Homo sapiens: one gene and its partners. The protein of the gene in region 1 purifies or fractionates together with the protein of each later gene. This does not show direct contact. Each region holds a gene or a part of one and is shown on either strand. Other genes may lie near its edges.

Region 1 (5,025 bases):
AAAGAAACCAGTCTGAAAAAGCTACATACTTTAAGATTCCAACTATACGACATCTGAAAAGACAAAACTATAGAGATGATAAAAAGACCAGTGGTAGCCAGGGATTCAAGAGGAGAGGAAAAGGATGAATAGGTGGAACACAGGACATATCTACTCTGTATGATAGTGGAATGGTGGACACATGACACCATGCATTTTTCAAAACCCACAGAACTGTAGAACACAAAGAGTGACTCCTAATGTAAGATATGAACTTTCATTAACAATAATGTATCAGCATTTGTTGATAAACTGTAACAAATGGACCACACTAATGCAAGATGTTATTAAGAGAAATTGTGTCTGAGTGGGGAAGGGTATGTGGGAACTCTGCGTAACTTTCTGCATAATTTTCCTGTAAACCTAAAACTGCCCTTAAAAAAAGGTCTATTTTTAAAATGCATGCTTCCCAGAGAGAATGCTCTGAATTTTATCCTCTTCTCATGATTCATAAGACTATTCATTTTGAACACAAATTATAATTCTACAGTAGCTAGAGAGGAAGCACTGAGCCTTTTGTCACTGTAGAATATCAGGCACTACTGAATCATCTCAGGATCCTATCCTTTCCCTACTGCACCTCCTCTTCCGCCCCCGAAAGAATTATTTTATGATCTAAATTTTTGTATTCATATAACTGCTTCCATCTAGATAGTCTTTGAAGATTCCAGCCTGTGGAAATATTTCCTTAATTTATGACTAAATTCCAGTTTAATTATAATTATAAATTACAGTGACATTATTACACCAAATTGCCATGCCTCCTATTTTATTCACTTTTTTCATTTTCTATGAGGTATCATTTTATCAGAAACCTAAGTGTGTTCACTTTTTTTTTCCTTTTGAAAAAAGTATTGTTCTCTAAGGCACTGAAGACTCAATACAGAGGATTAAATTGGAAACTATAACCGTCCCAGAGGAAAGACAGCTAGTACATTTAAGTACAACTCTTCCCCACCTCCTGGTATAAAATGATCCCCCAAAACTCCTAATCTTTATTGGCACATGCTATAAACTTTTTAAAAAAACTTTAGAGATCGGGGTCTCTCTATGTTGCCCAGGCCGGAGTACAGTGGCTATTCACAGGTGCAATCTTTCCTCACTACAGCATCAAATGCCTGGGCTCATGCAGTCCTCCCACCTCAGCCTCCCATGCACCAGGATTACCGGTGTACACCACCACACCCAGCTTATATAAACTTCTTTAACCATTACCTTGGTCTTTTCCAGCTTCATCTATGTGCTGAAAATCTTTTAGTGTTTGAAGGTTACAGAACCCCTCTCTGCAATGCTGAATAACTTTCTTTGATCCATTCTTGATGAGATAATCCATTAGGGTAAGGGATTTATACACGTGGCGCCAGTTCTTCCCATGGTCATTGAGTCTGTGCCACAGCATATTCATAATCTCTGAGAGAGAAATTGTGTTGAAAGTCAAGTCACTGATATCTAACATCAGAGAACTAGAGGGACCCCAAGGGTCGTTAGAAGTTGCTTCCCTGACTTTTATTTCAGCATCTGAGTAATTTTTCACAAAGTTTTTCACTTGTCTCCTGAACGCCATAAGTAATACAAGTTCCAAGGTGAGATGGAGGATGAAAGCAATGGAATAACAGTTTATGTCACGGGTTTATAAAACTCTTGACAGGTAATTGGTCCCCAGTTCTGCTGCTCCCAAATACAAATAATTAATCTCTATGTTGATAAAGTATCAATTTCCTGCAAGGAAAGCACAAAAAAATTTACATTAAACTTTTTTTTAAGTCTATAGAAGACCAAATCAATCTGAAAATCTAGGTTTTGTTTCTAAATCAGCCCCTCACTTACAGCAGCCAGAATTGAGGGTACCATATAACTGTTCCTAGGATAGGCATGGGAAAATCCCTCATGAGAAATTGGCCTATATTATTTAAAGAAATATAGGTTGTCTTTCTAGTCATAAAAGTTCCTGGAGAAAATATCATTCAACCTCTTTGGCCAGAAATATAATGGCTATAAAGCATTACATGGACAGCAGACAAGCAACATTTTAAAAAACAGAACTTGCACTCTGACATCTCTTTCTTTCTTTCTTTCTTTTTTTTTTTTTTTTTTTTTTCCAAAGACAGGGTATTGCCCTGCTTCCCAGGCTGAAGTACAGTGGTGCAATCATAGCTCACTGCAGCCTTGAACTCCTAGGTTCATGCAATTCTCCTGCCTCCGCCTCCCAAGCAGCTGGAACTATAGGTGTGCGCCACCATGCCTGGCTATTTTTTTTTTTGGAGATAGAGTCTCCCTCTGTTGCCCAGGCTGGAGTGCAGTGGTGCGATCTTGGCTCACTGCAACCTCTGCCACCCGGGTTCAAGCGATTATCCTGCCTCAGCCTCCTGAGTAGCTGGGATTACAGATGCACGCCACCACACCTGGCTAATTTTTGTATTTTTAGTAGAGACGGGGTTTCACCATGTTGGCGAGGCTGGTCTCAAACTCCTGACCTTGTGATCCTTCCACCTCAGCCTCCCAAAGTGCTGGGATTATAGCCGTGAGCCACCGCTTCCGGCCTGCCTGGCTAATTTTTAAATATTGTGTAGAGATGGGGGTCTCAATATGTTGCACAGGCTGTTCAAAAATTCCTGGCCTCAAGTGATCCTCCCACTTCAGCCTTCTGAAGTGCTAGGATTTCAGGCATCTCTTTATATTGTCACATATAAAAATATTATATTCTGAGAGTAATTAAAATGGGGGTAAAATTGAGTCTTAGAATCACCCACTGACCCTATGACTGTATTCTTTTTAGAACTACAAGTCCCGAGAATCAGATCTAAATATAGTCTGCTTTCTTGCTAAACCTAAAAGAAAGGAGGATCAACTATGAAGACAAACAGCTGTATATCAGTGGACTCCACAGCTAATTCATGGTACCCTAAAACCTCTATTTTAGTCCAGATAAGCCTGGTAAATTAGAGGGAAAGGTTAAATTACTTTATTTGTTCACCTTTGGAAAAAGAAGAATGAGTTTAGGATTAAACAGTGTCAACAGTAAGACTCAAATAATGCAAGGATTTCTCTAAATCCTGCAGTGATCAGCCTGTGTCTATCAGATCTCAAAACAAGGACACACAGAGAGGCCCATATACTAAAACTTAAAAGGGAAATGCAGCCCCCAAACTTTACATAATGCTTGTGAATGATCAATTCAGTTTATAGGAAACCATTCCCTTTCTCTTTTTCATTATTTTGTATTAAGGAGGGTCAGTCAGTTTGCAATTTCTCTAGTGATTCACCACTGCTGGCTGCCAAGACAGTGTACCAAATTGATTTCAAGCCCTGACGAACATCCAGACCCAACGAAACCTAGAAGATCTATAATCAGATTTTACTAGAGAAACTGCACACATACAAAAGAAAAAATGTTAAAATCCATAACAAATGTGTTCACTGCTTTTAGTTTTGCTTCCCTTTCTTGACCTTCTCAGGTAACTAGCTCAGCCTTGATTAATTTCTGTATGTGTATTAAAGGAAGACATAAATTTTTAGAAGCATCCCAAATAAACTATCACTTCTTTTTTTTAAAAAAATGAGATAACCTCTTTTTGGTAAAAATACAACACACTCTTAACTAAGCAAGACAGAAAATGTACCTGTATAAGTGGTTGGGCGTGGTGGCTCACACCTGTAATCCTAGCACTTTGGGAGGCTGCCGCGGGCAGATCACCTGAGCTCAGGAGTTCAACACCAGCCTGGACAACATGGTGAAACCCTATCTCTACTAAAAACACAAAAAATTAGCCAGGCTTGGTGGCACACACCTGTAATCCCAGCTACTTGGGAGACTGAGGCATAAGAATCACTGGAACCTGGGAGGCAGAGGTTGCACTGAGCCGAGATTAGGCCACTGCGCTATAGCCTGGGAGATAGAGTGAGACTCTGTCTCAAAAATAAATAAATAAATAAATAAATAAATAAATAAATAAATAAATAAATAAAAAAGAAAATGTATTAAATATCTGTTTAATTAAGATTTCTCAGAAAGACACTATCATTAACCCTAGGAAGAAAAAGAGAAGTTGTGTTTCTACAACTTTCTGATTTTCTCTTTTTCGTACTTCAAACACAGTCATTTTTATTTGGCACCTTCCTGCAGTGAAAAACTGATTTATAATATTTCAGCAAAGCTATTAAAATTGTCAAGCAGGAGGGTTTTTTTTTCTATTGTCCTTTTTTTCCTTCTACCAAACTCACTCAATGCAGAGATGCACTATGACATTGGCTTAGAGCAACAAATATCGATCTGTTTCTTCACGATTCTATTTTCTTTTAAAGCCCTGTTAGAATCATAACTTGCTGGAATTGAACAACAAATGTTAATTTTTTTTTCTTTTTTGGATAGCTATCTATCTATATTTTGGAAGAACAATCGTAATTTTTAGGTTTTTCTACATTCTCTAACCTATATTTTAAACTTTTAAAAACTGTTTTCTTAAATGAATTTTCTAACCCAGAAAAATATCAAAATAATAGCCTTCTAATCCAATAGAGTAGTTTAAAATGAATTTACATGACACCATATCAGAATTAAATACAACCCCAACCATTAGAAAAATCGCAAGGAAAAAGGTCTAGAGAAGTGAATTCTTATCACTTACTAATGTACAATGACTTGAACTTTACCTTGTGATATGAACGTAGAATATGTAAAACACCATTCTACTACTGCTGTCTTTTCAAATTGACAAGGAGCTCAATTAATTGGTGTTAGTTGTAAATTATATGTTGGTTTATTATGTGTTTTAGACACCTGACTACATGAAAATGCTGTTTACATACAGCATCAAATAACTGTGAGATTGTAACTACAGTGATGTGACAAAAATTGACATGAGACAAAATTAGTGCCCAAGAGGGTAAATTTCCACATTTGAATCTTGGTTGTCTGGCTACCCAACTCACTATAATATTTAGAAATAGAGGGAAGAAGTTAGGTATTTCATGTCACAAATCTGAGAG
Region 2 (5,025 bases), on another chromosome or scaffold:
ATCACTTTAAATTTTACTATGGAAAGAAATAACAAATGACATGTGGGAATTGCAGGACTATCCTGTAATTGTAGACACCCACCATTTAAATTTATTTAACAGTTATCTTGAAAGCTATTGGGTATAGCATAAAATAATATCACTCTTTTAATAGTATACAAAAGCTATTTAATTCTTTAAAAAGTAAAAACTCTACATGGTCGCAAAAATGTGTTTATTTCTAATGTCCTTGTGGGGTCATTGTTGCTTTACAATAATGCTTAGATGCAGAGAGAGGAAAAAACAGCAACAAAGTCACATAAATCTTTCCCTGACTTAGTACATTTGAAGGATTTGGCATATTTTGCCTATTTCTGTGGTAGTGTAATTTGAGGAATACAGTGTGTTGTTAATAGTCACTACAGGCAAAAAACAGTAAGAGCTTGCTTTTAAATTGTGGCTCTGTCATTTATCTCTGTGACTTCGGGCTAGATGTTTAACTTTCTAAGCCTCCATTTCTCATCAGTAAATAATAGTTGCTTCCTAGGACTTTAATGAGACAGTGTTAGCAAATGGCCTAGCACATAGCAAGTACTTAAAAAATGGAATCCTGTTATTATTAATAATAAAAATTATATCGTGCGATTATTTATAATTAACATAAATAAATATAATAAATATATGTGTATATAATACATATTACTATGTATACTTAACATATCACTTGTAGGCCCCTATTTTGTCTTTGGCTGTGTTTATCTGCTTTGTGTCTTGACTTAAACTATTTAAAAGTAGATCCTGCTATATGGAAATTTCCAAGTAAAGAGGAGAGAGGATTTTTTTTTTTCTTTGTTGCCCATGGTAGAGTGATCACAGCTCACTGCAGCCTTGAACTCCCCGGGCTCAGATGATCCTCCCACCTCAGCCTTTCAAATAGCTGGGACCACAGGCGCATACCACCATGCCCGACTAATTTTTGTATTTTTTTGTAGAGATGGTTTTGCTATGTTGCCCAGGCTGGTCTCAAACTCCTGGGCTCAAGCAATTAGCCTGCCTCAGCCTCCTAAAGTGCTGGGACTATTGGTGTGAGCCATCACATGTGGCCAGGAGAGAGGAATTTTAAAATATTTATATACTCTAAATTAGTTTGTTGCAAAATACCATTCTAATTAATGCTTTTATGTCATTCTCATGAAACTAATCTGAAAGAGTAAACTTAGTTTTCTATTTTTAGATATTGTTTCAACATACCAAATACCAAAATAAAATTAAATAATTTTAAAGAACATAACACAACTTATACATCCAAATGCCTATTGTTTTCTTAAAAGTAGTCACCCCCGTCAGTGACTTTTTAGCATAAGGTTAGGAGACAGATTCTTATCTTTTCAGCATGCATTTGATTTTTACAAATTTTCAAAGGCTGCTTGATACCTTAATCAGGCCAATATATTAGCTAATTAAATTAAGTCATACTGTTAAAACATGATATTTATAAAATTAAAAGTTAAAAAATAGTCTAAGGGTTTATCTTAAGTTTTATCTTAAAAAAATTAGAAAAATGTTTTGAGCTATGTTATTGTTGGAAGGTGTGGTTTTTCTACGGTAAATGTTACGATATAACACTCATTTGCATGTGTAAGGTTCAGAGTACACTTATAATTTATGTGCACAGATTTTCATTATAAAGTCATTCTCTTTGATTTACATATTTTTACTTGCTATTTTTGTACTTATTATGCCACTGGCAGATTCACCTTATTAAGTGAAACTCTTTATTGCTCTGTTTTCAGTAGAAAAATCACTTTTCAAAATTAATACTTCATCTGTGTATAAGCATATTCTTTTGGTTTCTAAGATTTGCTGTCATATTTTTAAAGTTGAGTTTTAAAGAATTAAAATAATTTTTGTTGTTGTTATTTTCTCATGGTTTACCATTGAATATACCTGTATAATAAAGGTGCAGGATGGGAGGCAGGATAGTGGAATAATTAATTCCATAGACTAGAATCAGATTGCCTGGATTAGTATTTCAGCTTTATTGCCTACTAGCAATATGACTTTGACAAGCTATTTAACCTCTCATTCAGTTTCCTCATCTGTAAAGTGGCAGTTACAGTAATACTTAACCTTATAGTGGTTTGGGGATTTTTTTTTTTTTTTGAGACACGGTCTCACTCTGTCACCCAGGCTGGAGTGCAGTGGCGTGATCCCAGCTCACTGCAGCCTCTACCTCCCGGGCTCAAGCAATCCTCCCACCTCAGCATCCTGAGTAACTGAGACCATGGGCATGAGCCAGCATGCCCTGCTAATTAAAAAATTTTTTTTATAGAGATCGGGTCTTGCTCTGTTGCCCAGGCTGGAGTGCAGTGGCATGATCATGGCTCACTGGAGTCTTGAACTCCCTGGGCTCAAGCAATCCTTCTGCCTTGGCCTTCCAAAGTGCTAGGATTATGGGGGTGAGCCACTGCACTCCATCATTTTTGTGGTATTTAAATTGGGTAATTTGAGTAAAGAGAATAATGCTTGGCACATAGTAATTACTCAACACACTTATTGTAGTATATATTATTGCCATTATTATTTACTTTGTGGCCTGCACTAGTGTTTATAATTAGTGACTATTTCCTTTAGTTTTTATACTTGTCAGAAGAATGGCAATACTTAACCTCTGTTTTACCAGGGTATTGCTATTTGTGCTTATTGCAATAATTAGCTCTTACAAATTGGCTCTAGGAGTCTCACAGAACCACCCAATTATTTTTGTTCTTCCTGTCTCGTTCTTGTTTCCATCTGTCCTCTGATACAAAGCCTTAACAGCCCTTTTGTCATATATCATGCTTATTTTTTGTCTTCTGTTAGCTCATTTGTTTCTCAAAATCTTGCACTTTTAATTTTTAAACATTCATTTATTGTCTTGGCTGGACACGGTGGCTTATGCCTGTAATCCCAACACTTTGGGAGGCTGACGCAGGCGGATCGCGAGGTCAGGAATTTGAGACCAGCGTGGCCAATATGGCGAAACCCCGTCTGTACTAAAAATACAAAAATTAGCCTGGCATGGTGGCACGTGCTGGTGTCCCAGCTACTCGAACCGGAGGCTGAGACAGGAGGATCGCTTGAACCCAGGAGGTGGAGATTGCAGTGAGCCGAGATCGTGACACTGCACTCCAGCCTGGGCAGCAGAGCGAGACTCCGTCTCACAAAAAAAAAAAAAAAAAAGAAAGAAAAAATTCATTTATTGTCTCATTTCAGTTCTACTTTGGGCAGCCTCTGGCTAATGAGAGAACCAGTGTCTTGTGGTCTGGAGTTGTGGGATGGACACTGGTCCCATTGGCTATAGCAGATGAAACTTGGTTGGGGCTGGAAGCCTTCCTATTTTTGTCTTCAGCATCTGGCTGGCCACATATATATATATATATATTTTTTTTTTTTTTTTTTTTTGAGATGGAGTCTAGCTCTGTTGCCAAGGCTGGGGTGCAGTGGCACAATCTCGGCTCACTGCAACCTCCACCTCCCGGGTTCAAGTGATTCTCCTGCCTCAGCCTCCCGAGTAGCTGGGATTACAGGCGCCCACCACCACGCCCATCTAGTTTTTGTATTTTTAGTAGAGACGAGGTTTCACCATGTTGGCCAGGCTGGTCTCGAACTCCTGACCTCATGATCCGCCCACCTCGGCCTCCCAAAGTGATGGGATTACATGCATGAACCACCGCACCTGGCCCTGGCTGGCTATATTTTAAATATAATTCACTCTTGACAAATTTATGAATTAGATATTATAAGCCCCATTTTATACATGAAGAAATTGAGATAGTAATTACATCATTCATTGTCACTCACCTGATAAATAGCAGAACTCATCAAACCCAGGTTTGCAGATTCCTTATCCTTTTTCTACCATACAGTACCTGCCCTTAGTAAGTGTTATTTCACCTCACAAAGAGGAGGAAGTTACAGTTGTGAAGAATACATTTCATTTTTACCTTTGTTATTTATTTTTAGAGACATTTTAAATCCTAAGGATGTGATCACAACTCGCTTTGAGAATTCCTATCCTAGCAAAGATTTCTGCAGCCAATCATGCTTGTCATCTTATGAGCTAAAGAAAAAACCTGTTGTTACCATATATACCAAAAGCATTTCAACTAAGTGCAGTATGTGTCAGAAGAATGCTGATGTAAGTTACATTTTACTTTTATTGGGATTCTGCTGAAAGAGATTTTTTTTTAACTGGCTCTGCTTATTTTGTGTGTGTATGTGTGTGTTTATTTCCTAGACTCGATTTGAAGTTAAATATCAAAATGTGGTACATGGTCTTTGTAGTGATGCCTGTTTTTCAAAATTTCACTCTACAAACAACCTCACCATGAACTGTTGTGAGAACTGTGGGAGCTATTGCTATAGTAGCTCTGGTCCTTGCCAATCCCAGAAGGTTTTTAGTTCAACAAGTGTCACGGCATACAAGCAGGTATGAATATCTATTTGTTGCATGTACTTAGGCCCACTCCTTCTGATTTGGCTGCACAGGGATGAACTACAAAATGAGAGTGAGCTCCTCCCATTAGTCCATCCTGATATGTGATTTCCCTTCCAGAAAATGGGATAGATTCTGATGGTGTGAGGGATGATTGTGGTGGTAAGTTGATATAGGTAAAATAGGTCCCTTTTTTAAGGCTCCCTTCATAGCTAAGAATTTACAAATGTGATTTCTTTTCTTTTTTTGAAATCGAGATAGGGTTTTGCCATGTTGCTCAGGCCGGTGTTGAACTCCTGAGCTCAAGCCATCCACTCGCCTCAGCCTCCCAAAGTGCCGGGATTACAGGCATGAGCAACCACACCTCGGCCTCATAAATGTAATTTCATGATTTTCTGTGAGCATGAAATATTTTGTGATGTATTGATAGCAAGAAAACCATATTATAAATAAACCATAAGCAAGAGTTAAGATGATAAAATCAGTGAATCTAAACAAAGCTTGTCTTTTTCATTTCAAAATGTGTTTGGGAATGAATTGTAATTATTTGGTCAACACTGTCTCATGAG
Region 3 (5,025 bases), on another chromosome or scaffold:
GTAGTGCACTGAAATCCTTAAATCCATGAGTTTGTAATGATGACCAAAAGAATAAAAACAACTCTTGACTTTTGGAGGATGCTAGGAAAGTGATGCATTCTTTCAAGATCAGGAAAATAAAGGGAAATAATAAAACATTTATTGTGCATTTCCTGTGAGAACTGTATCTCAAGGTAGCCAAATAGCTGATAAGAGGAAGTGTCTGTTTTAGTTATACTTTACTGCCACTAATAGATGAAGAAGGGATGATGTAATTAGTATATCATGTATTCTGTCCCAGCTAATATATGAAGAAGGGGTGATAGAGTTAGTATATCATAACTTTACAGCTCCTAATGAATTAATGAATCTAGAGTCTATAGACATGATTGTCAGAGGCTACTAATGTCTCAAAAAGAAAGACAAGCTGGCATAATATATCTTGTGGTGGAAATACTTATTACCACCTATTAATAGTCTTGCCAAAATAATCACCCTTTAGCTATAACCATGATTTTGTTTATTGTCATACAATAATTTTGATTATTGTCATACAGGGAACAAAGGAAGATAGGGATGCAATCAGCAAAATTCTGATTGTGGAAATCTATGGAAAAATGAAATGGTTTCTTAAAAATTATAAATTGTAAGAAAAGGAAAAAGAGGAGAAACCTATGGATTACAAGAGATTTAAGAGATTAAAATGCATACTAGCCAATTGCCGTGATGGACTTTATTTAGATCCTGATTAACTACTTGTAAAAAGTAAAAGTTTATGAAACAATCGAGGAAATATAATCATCAGCTGGATACTTGATGATATCGAATTATTTGAAACATTTAAATGTGACAGTGGTAGTAATGTGGCTGTGTTTATAAAGAGTCTTTATCCTTCATTTTATTTTTTGGAGATGAAGTCTCACTCTGTTGCCCCAGCTGGAGTGCAGTGGTGTGATCTCTGCTCACTGCAACCTCCGCCTCCCGGGTTCAAGTGATTCTCCTGGCTCAGCCTACCGAGTAGTTGGGATTACAGCTGCCCGCCACCATGCCTGGCTAATTTTTGTATTTTTGGTAGAGACAGGGTTTTGCCATGTTGGCCAGGCTGGTGTTGAACTCCTGACCTCAGGTGATCCACCTGCCTTGGCCTCCCAACGTGCTGGGATTACAGGCATGAGCCACCTCGCCCAGCTGAGTCTTTATCTTTCAAAGAAATATTTTGGAGTCTGGGATTTCCTTCAAAATAATCTTTGGGTGGGTGGGGATAGTAAGTTGGGGGTATAGTTGCAATAGGATTGGTCTTGAGTTAGTAACTGCATTTGGGGCTGGGTACAGTGGCTCATGCCTGTAATCTCAGCACTTTGGGAGGCCGAGGTGGGCAGATCGCTTGAGGTCAGGAGTTCGAGACCAGCCTGGCCAACATGGTAAAACCTTGTCTCTACTAAAAGTACAAAAATTAGCTGGGCATGGTCATTTGTAGTCTCAGCTACTAGGGAGGCTGAGGCAGGAGAATTGCTTGAACCTGGGAGGCGGAGGTTGCAGTGAGCTGAGATCATGCCATTGCACTCCAGCCTGGGCAACAGAGCAAGACTCCATCAAAAAAAAAAAAATTGCGGCTGGGTGGTTCATGATGCTTATTCACTTTTGTGATACTGTTGTATTTAGCGTATGTCCTAAAATTTCTGTACTGTAATTAGAAAGAGCTAGTCACAGCCTTCAAGAATTTTAAGAGCTAGATATAAAAAATAAATGAATATGGCATGTTAACAGTTATTATAGAAGTCGGTATAAATTGCTGTGGGGGCACATAGAGTGTAGAGTGAGCCCATAAAAAGGTTGAAAGGTAGAGTGTGAGCTTGGGCCAGAAAGACAATTTCAGTGGCTTTCCAAGCAAAAGAAGAGCAAATGCAGTGGTATGGAGCTGTGAAATTATACAGCTGAGGGAGCATCAGATTTGGAAACTAATTCTGGTTTTATGGTAGAGGATGGCACAGATGAGGCATAGACAAATCTTCAAATAAGAATTCTATTGAAAATAGGGAGTTAGAGGGCGTGCAGCTTGGGGATTGTGGTAAAGGAAGGTTTTCATTCATTCTTTTTTTTTTTTATTTTTGAGAATAAGTCTCCCTCTTGTCGCTCAGGCTGGAGTGCAGTGGCGCAATCTTGGCCCACTGCAACCTCTGCCTCTCGGGTTCAAGAGATTCTCTTGCCTCAGCCTCCCGAGTAGCTGGTACTACAGGCTCCTGTCACCATGCCTGGCTAAGTTTTGTGTTTTTAGTAGAGATGGGGTTTCACCATGTTTGCCAGGCTGGTCTTGTACTCCTGACCTCGGGCGATCCACCCACCTCGGCCTCCCTAATTGTTGAGATTATAGGCGTGAGCCACTGCCCCCGGCCTCATTCTTTTTTTTTTTTAAACCTTGAATTAAAATTTAAATTACTTGACAAGTTTAGATCACTGTTCAGAGAGAACTGACTAGTCATGAAAGTTTCATCTTCAGAAATTATCCTATTAGTGAGTTTATAAGTTCATCTTTCTGCTTCTCCCTTCCTCTCTAGAATTAGCTAATAGCCAGCAAAATTTTGATTTTATCAGCCCTGTTTAACTTATGTTTGTATCTTTGGTAAACTAGATCCAAGAATAATAGATTTGAACGTTATAACATGTATTGTTTCATCACTATCATATGGAAACTTTTACTGTCCTGTTACAGTTTTGCAAATGTTTGTCCTGCCACCTAAAGGATACAGCATATTATTGAAATTTCCACCTGCACGTGCTTATTTATGCAAAGGAAGTCAAATTGATTTCTGTGGGGAATTTGCCTAAAAATGGATGGTTGAAATGTGCTGCCTGAAATTATAAATGGAACAATAGGATATAATACTCATTGCCTTATTTTCCTTAATCATAATACAATTAAAAGCTTTATATAGCTTTTATATCATTAGAAAAGATAATGTCTCTTCCAGGCTTAAAAATGTAGCCCCAAAACACAAGAATAAATTGGATTGTTTGTAGTCACACAAACAGTTTTGTCTGTTGGCTTTGTTTTATTGTCAGAAATCCTAAATATTGTTGACATTGACTTATTTTCAAATGATACAGTCTCCAAGATGATATGCAGAAGATGAACTGATGTAGCTGAGTGACCAAAGGCACTGGCAAAGGATCGATGAGTTGTATTTTTATACAGATGCTCCTTGACTTATTATGGGGTTATGTCTTGGTAAACCCAGTTTAAGTTGAAAATATTGTAAGTCGAAATGCATTTAAGACACCTAACCTACACAACATCATAGCTTAGCCTAACCTTCTTTAAACATGCTCAGAACACTTAGCCTCCAGTTGGGCAAAATCATCTAACACAAAGCCTATTTTATAAGAAAGTATTGAATATCTCATGAATTCAATACCGAATACTCTATTGAAAGTGAAAAAACAGAATAGTTGTACGGGTACTCAAAGTACATACAGTTTCTGCTGAATGCATGTAGCTTTTGTACTGTTGTAAAGTCAAAAAATCCTAAGTCTAACCATCATAAGTTGGGGACTGTCTGTAATTGAATGGGACCTGGCCAGGTATCCTTGAGAGAGCGCAGGTGAATGTCTCAACCAGTTAGGATAAATGACTGTCCCACAAAAGTCATACATGTTCATTGTAGAAAACCAAATATAGGCTGGGCGTAGTGGCTCACGCCTGTAATCCCAACACTTTGGAAGGCCGAGGTGGGCGGATCACTTGAGGTCAGGAGTTCGAAACCAGCCTGGGCAACATGATGAAACCCTGTCTCCACTAAAAATACAAAAATTAGCCAGGCATGGTGGTGGGCACCTGTAGTCTCAGCTACTCGGGAGGCTGAGGCAGGACAATGGCGTGAACCTGGGAGGCGGAATTTGCATTGAGCCGAGATCGCGCCACTGCACTCCAGCCTGGGCGATGGAGCGAGGCTCTGTCTCAACAGCAACAAAAAAAATTATAAGTAATTTGAAATTATTTGAGCACATACAAATGTCCCAATTAGAAGTACTCAGTAAATGCTAGTGAGTTACTTAGAAAGAAACTGCTTGTGAGAAATCCATGTGCTGATAGCCAAGATTTATTGAGCATGTATTTCCCAGGCATTGTTCTAAGTGCTAGTAACTCAATCCTCACCGCAACCCTAAGAAGTAGGTACTATTGCCATCATTTCAGATGCAAGTTAAATAATTTACCTGCCCAAGACACTATAGCTAATAAGTGAAGAGTTAGGTAGCCTGGCTTTGGAACCCATGTCCTTACCATTGTGAACTGATGTTTCAAATTTAATGCTATGGGATTTACACCTTAAGCCATATATACAAAAAAATTGGAGAAGGGGAGAGAGGAGGCATTTTATGGGAAATTCCAAAACCAATCTGTGTTCCCTCCAGAGATATGTGGAATTGTTGCATTCCTGATATCCTTCCAATAATAGATTCTGTTATTTAAAACATTTTTAAATGTGATAGAAAAAAATAGTTTGGCTTAATCCATGTTTTTGATTTCCAGGGAGGGTGAACATATTTCTGTGCTTATTGGCTGCGTTCATTTCTTGTTTTAGGAATTGTTCATTTTCTTTGACCATTTTTTCTGCTGATGCCCTGTTCATGTTGATCTGTAAGAGCTTTATACGTCCTTATTTTTGCTACTTGGCCAGCCGTCGCTTTAGAGTAATGTCTGTCTCACTATAGCTGTGCTTCTGTTACCTTCCCTGATATTTAAAACAGTTTTTGTTTCATGTATTTAATTTTGTGATAATTGATACATTAAGGTTCTTGGCTATTTTATATTCATTGTAGAGTGTAACTTGTCGTATAAAAGCCTCTAATTTGTTGCATTATAACTTTTGTTTTGAATTCTACATTGTTAGATATTAATACTGTCACACTGCCCCTTCTGTCATTTTGCTTTGTATGCATGTATACTTACCCAGTATATTATACTGTCATCCTTGGTTTTATTTGGAGGGGTGTGTGTGTGTGTATCTACAACTGTGTACACTTTTGAGGAGATGATGCGTTTTTAAT
Region 4 (5,025 bases), on another chromosome or scaffold:
AGATGAGAAAAGGCAGCAAAGGAGACTGAGTGGGAGAGGCCAGAGGTTGGAAGAGAGCAACAGAGAGGCCCCACATGAGATTTAAATAAGGAGCTGCATGCTAATTTGTTTTTTTCAGGAGTAAGAAACAAATTATGTCTGTACACAAATGTCTATACTGTAGTTTCTTTCTCAGTAAATAAAATGTTTGTGTCCTCAAGTATTTTTCTGTTTTTGCTTTAAGTGACAAATTCTATTTAATACCATTCTGCATCTTAGTCCTTGTAGCATTTATGCCTCTATTCCAAGTTTAGGTGGTAGTGTTGCTTCTCTTTTAAACTTTATTTAAATACTCCTTTTGTAGTATTTTGGATGAGAGAGGATCAAATACATAATTTATCTCACTCTTCTGTCACTTTCCACTCCAGGTTCACAGGTGGCTGTTGGTCTTTAGTAAGGGTGCTGTCTTCCCTGTCTGATCCTTAGCAAAAGTAGGAAGGTAGGTCTTGTTCATTTCTGTACCACTGTGGCAGACTCCTGATACTGAGTTGAAATTCATGAGTGTTTATGGGATAAATTAATGTACAAAAGAAATGAATCTTTCCCTTTTTCCTGCAGTAATGATAACATTGGCTCAGTGGTTTACAGCTTAGAAGTACACTGACACTCATTATCTTATTTAGATGTAATCCAATTTGTTAGTTTGCCAGCTACTGCTCTTTTCCCTTTCTCAGGCACATTGAAATTTACTTTCCCTTTGGGGGCTCTGCTAGTTTATTCCTAGCAGATCTGATCTGGCAGTGTGTTTGTAAAAGGATGCTGAACTGTGTCTTGAGGAAGCTCAGAATGAAATCTGAATTTCAGAAAGATTCCTGAGATAATTTTTCTCTGTCTCTTCTCTTTTATTCTTGTTTTAATAAATTTTAGTTTTATGAGGATTGTTTTGGTTTTAAAAAACTTTAAATCATTTTTTAAAACTATTTTTTACAACAATTTTAGGGTTACAGAAAAATTGCATAGTACAGAGAGTTCCTGTATACCTTGCACCCAGTCTCCCCTTTTAGTATGGTATATTTGCTATAATGCAAATCTTTTTTTTTTTTTTTTTTTTTTTTTTTTGAGATGGAGCCTTGCTCTTGTCGCCCAGGCTGGACAGTGTTGGCCAGGCTGGTCTCGAACTCCTGACCTCAAGTGATCCGCCTGCCTCAGCCTCCCAAAGTGCTGGGATTACAGGTGTGAGCCACTGTGCCTGGCCATGCAAATCATTTTTTGAGATAAGTGGGGCATATAAAAATATAAACAAAATGAAGTTGCTTTATCTCTACAAGCCTCAGTTTCCTTATCTGCAAGATGAGGGGGGTGGACTAAATTTCTAAATAGCTTTAAAATTTTTTAATTATCTGCTAAAGTAAAATAATTATATAATTGTAATATAATTTTCTTTATTTGCTTAAGTATTACTAATACCACCTTGCCAAATCATGTTTGCAAGTTACTGACAGCCATATCCTAAAAGAAAACTTAATGAGAATTCATGGAACTATGTGTGGCAGGACTGCTTATTAGAGATATTAGGTTGAATGATGTGAAATTGCCATTTTTGTAGATAAAAAGTAATGAGTGAGGCTGGGCTTGGTGGCTCACACCTATAATGCCATTGCTTTGGGAGGCTTGGACCAGGGGGTGGCTGTCTGAAACCAGGAGTTCGAGACAAGCTTAGGCAACATGGCAAAACCTTGTCTCTACCAAAGAAAAAAAAAAAAAGCCTCGGTGGCACACATCTTCAGCTCCTCTGAAGGGTGAGGCTGGAGGATCCCTTCAGCCCAGGAATTTGAGGCTGCGGTGAGCTATGATTGCACCACTGTACTCCAGCCTGGGTGACAGAGCTAGATCCTTTCTCTAAAAATAATAATAATAATAGGATAATATTAGCAATTTCATATGGTTCAACCTAATGTTTTGGGATAGGGATTCAACAAAGTGTGAGGGGGCCTTTGAGACCTCATAAACTCCCACTGCATGCAAAAGCCCGGCTCAGCCCTCACCATACTAGGAGAGAAAAGGCTCCTCAGTTCCCTTGGAGTAACTTGGATCTACATTATTGTAGGTAGAGTTGTTGGCAGAAATCCTGGGATAAGAGAATAGTTTCCTGGAAGATCTGTGCCTCCAACCAGCAGAGAGGGATTGAGCTTCATTGAACTCAACAGAGCCAACATTTCATAGCACCATGGTGAGTTGGTCACACAGCCTTGGCAAAAAGGCTGAAAAGGAGGGTGTAATAGTATGGGGAAAGGTTGTATTCCCCTGGTTCGTAGGCTAGGAAGAGGCCTGGAGTACTGGTGCCACCAAACCTTTATTGGTGCCATTCTATTCTCCCTACTTTATGCACTTTCCTTACTGCCTAGTACAGGCTCTGCAAACTCAAGTATCTTCGGTTGTTCAGGAGGTAATGTAAATTAGTAAGCCGAGTTTTCCTCTTTAATGCTACTATAACAGAAACAATAGCACAGTTGCAATGATAAATGACAACTGAAATATGCTATCATTGTGAGGGAGAGAATCGGTGTGTGCATAGGGGAGGCCATGATGAACTGGAGAGCACATGCCCTGTCTAAAGGGGGCAGGCACTATACAACTGTGCAGAGCACACGCCCTGTCTAAAGGAGACAGGCGCTGTTCAACTGCACGGAGCGCGTGCCCTGTCTAAACGGGCAGGCACTATTCAACTGTGCAGCTGGTTGTTGCCTTATTGAAATATGGGTCAAGCATCACTGGGTATTCTGATTTTCCAAAGGAGCCAGAAATATGGATTTTATGTACATTCTCCCAATGATAAATGTTGGCACCTAATTTGAATTCTTAAAAACTATTATGTGGGCCACACAATGGCTGAAAAGAGCTAGCAGGGCACTGATTTGTCATCTCTGGCTTATGGCTTAGCTCTGCCAGGAGTGAGGCTCACATGCATTTCTTCACTGGACATTGTTGACAAGTTACAATTAAAATGAATTAGACAGCTCCTGCCTTTGAGGTACTCATGGATTAGCAGAGAAAATAGACAAGTAATGATGATAAGATGTAGAGTAGACATCAGAACATATGTATTCTCTCTGTGTATATAGCTATAAAAGTGACTAACTCTTCCTGGGTTCATCTGGGAGGACATGATAGGACGTGGCATTTGAGCCAGGATGTGGGAAATCAATAGTTTGGTGCATTAAAGGGATTTGGGGCCCTTGAAATTTCTACTGTATGTGCAAATGTTAGGTTTGCATTCGCTGTATATACCATTTTGTTGATAGGTAGTTGAAAATACGGATATTCCTTAGCCCTGCTGGTGAGAGTCTTAGGGTTAATAAAATGAGAGAACTCTTCCTCTGGCCCAGGTTATGGGATAATTGTGTGTTTTAGAGGCCTAAGTAACTCAGAGGTCATGATACCCTCATTTCTGGATGAGGGAAGTAGCACATCTGAGGTCACAGAGCCCATTGGAGGCAGAGCTTGGACTAACACCCAGAACTCTTTACCACCATGCCTTCCCCTGTCCTGGGTATCTCTGATGAAGGTCACCGTTAGGCTGGCCGCCTCTGCCTGTGGTGGCCCATTGCCCTGTTTTGGCCCAGCTCCTGGTGGGTGAGGGGGTTTGGCCATCCTGCTGCCACTGGTTCCTTCTCTCTTTTGGATCCTTTGCCTGAAATGCCTGCTACCCCTTTTCTTTGTCAGATAGACTACTTGTGTTCAAATCTCTCTCAACCATATGCCAGCTGTGTGGCCTGGCACAAGTTTTTTAACCTTTCTAAGCCCCAGTTTCCTCATCTATATATAAAGAGTTATAATAGTACGTTTGGTGAAGTGTAATGAGAAGGCATTGGAAGGTTTCAAGATTTTTGTAAAAACAAAATGACGTAATGCATGTAAAGCACTTAAAGCAACAGCCCTCCAGAAGCACTCAGCAAGTGTTAACAATGATGATGATGATTCACACAGTTCACAGGCTCCCAGGCTGGGTTCTCTTCCTTTGTTTTCTCATATTATCTTATTATTTCACATGCTACATTGTATGTATTGTAATAGTTTGTGTCTATTTCCCCTGCTAGACTAAGAACACCTTCAGCGATTCATTCAACAAATGTTTCTGAACCACTGTGCCAGGAACTAAGGATGCAGTGATAAACCAGGAGCTCTTGGTTTAGTGCAGAGTTCCAAAAGTCATGCCAGGAGACACTAGTCCTGTGAGCTTGTCTCATGGTCAGTTAAATTTGGGGAATGATGCTCATCATAGCGCCCTTCAGAGATGAGGGTCCCTTTTAGTATTTTAAAGGTTCTGAGGAGTCTTGTGTGTAGTAAAAGAACAGTCCTTTCCATTTGACTATGTGCTTTGGTCCCCAGTTCAAGAGGAGGTTGAAGTGGCATGGCAATGGTTAGAGACCCTGCTGGGCGTGAACACCCTCTGGCTACCTAGGGACCTGTGGGCCTACCACCTGGTGCCCTCATGGAGACAAGAAGCCCTGGGTTGAACAACATGAAGCCCCAGTCACTGCAGCTGGTACTGGAAGAGCAGGTGCTGGCACTACAGCAGCAGATGGCAGAGAATCAGGCAGCCTCCTGGCGGAAGCTGAAGAACTCCCAGGAGGCCCAGCAGAGACAAGCAACCCTTGTGAGGAAGCTGCAGGCCAAGGTGAGGCAGCTGCCCTTTTGGGGAGGGGAAAGAGAACAACCCCCAGAGCTAGGTGCTGAGGTGAGATAAGGGTTGCAGGAGGCAGAGTCTTGTGGTGGGAGTGGCCTACATCTAGCATGGTGAGATAAGACCCAGACCTTCTAGCTTTCATGTACAGCTTCTCTTTTGATGCTCACAACTGCTCCATGAGGTACGTATTATATCCTTTTAATTTAATTTTATTTTTGAGATAGGGTTTTGCTCTGTTGCCCAGGCTAGAGTGCAGTGGTATGATCACAGATCGCTGCAGCCTCAACCTCCTGGGCTCAGGCAGTCCTCCTGCCTCAGCCTCTGGAGTATCTGGGACCACAGGTGTACACCACCACTTT

Evidence for each region.
Region 2: the proteins of ENTHD1 (region 1) and ZMYM6 purify together in Homo sapiens (affinity purification with mass spectrometry; one large-scale study listed by BioGRID and IntAct). This does not show direct contact.
Region 3: the proteins of ENTHD1 (region 1) and UACA purify together in Homo sapiens (affinity purification with mass spectrometry; one large-scale study listed by BioGRID and IntAct). This does not show direct contact.
Region 4: the proteins of ENTHD1 (region 1) and CEP250 purify together in Homo sapiens (affinity purification with mass spectrometry; one large-scale study listed by BioGRID and IntAct). This does not show direct contact.

Annotation. Positions count from the first base shown.
Region 1 is NC_000022.11:39,886,146-39,891,170, forward strand, and holds part of ENTHD1 (ENTH domain-containing protein 1), read right to left. Parts: intron 1,759-5,025; 5' UTR 1,604-1,758; coding exon 1,255-1,603; intron 1-1,254.
Region 2 is NC_000001.11:35,014,122-35,019,146, reverse strand, and holds part of ZMYM6 (zinc finger MYM-type protein 6), read left to right. Parts: intron 1-3,984; coding exon 3,985-4,159; intron 4,160-4,258; coding exon 4,259-4,450; intron 4,451-5,025. UniProt on the Homo sapiens protein: Plays a role in the regulation of cell morphology and cytoskeletal organization.
Region 3 is NC_000015.10:70,752,735-70,757,759, reverse strand, and holds part of UACA (uveal autoantigen with coiled-coil domains and ankyrin repeats), read left to right. Parts: intron 1-5,025. UniProt on the Homo sapiens protein: Regulates APAF1 expression and plays an important role in the regulation of stress-induced apoptosis. Promotes apoptosis by regulating three pathways, apoptosome up-regulation, LGALS3/galectin-3 down-regulation and NF-kappa-B inactivation.
Region 4 is NC_000020.11:35,457,897-35,462,921, forward strand, and holds part of CEP250 (centrosome-associated protein CEP250), read left to right. Parts: intron 1-407; 5' UTR 408-478; intron 479-2,086; 5' UTR 2,087-2,209; intron 2,210-4,368; 5' UTR 4,369-4,471; coding exon 4,472-4,657; intron 4,658-5,025. UniProt on the Homo sapiens protein: Plays an important role in centrosome cohesion during interphase. Recruits CCDC102B to the proximal ends of centrioles. Maintains centrosome cohesion by forming intercentriolar linkages.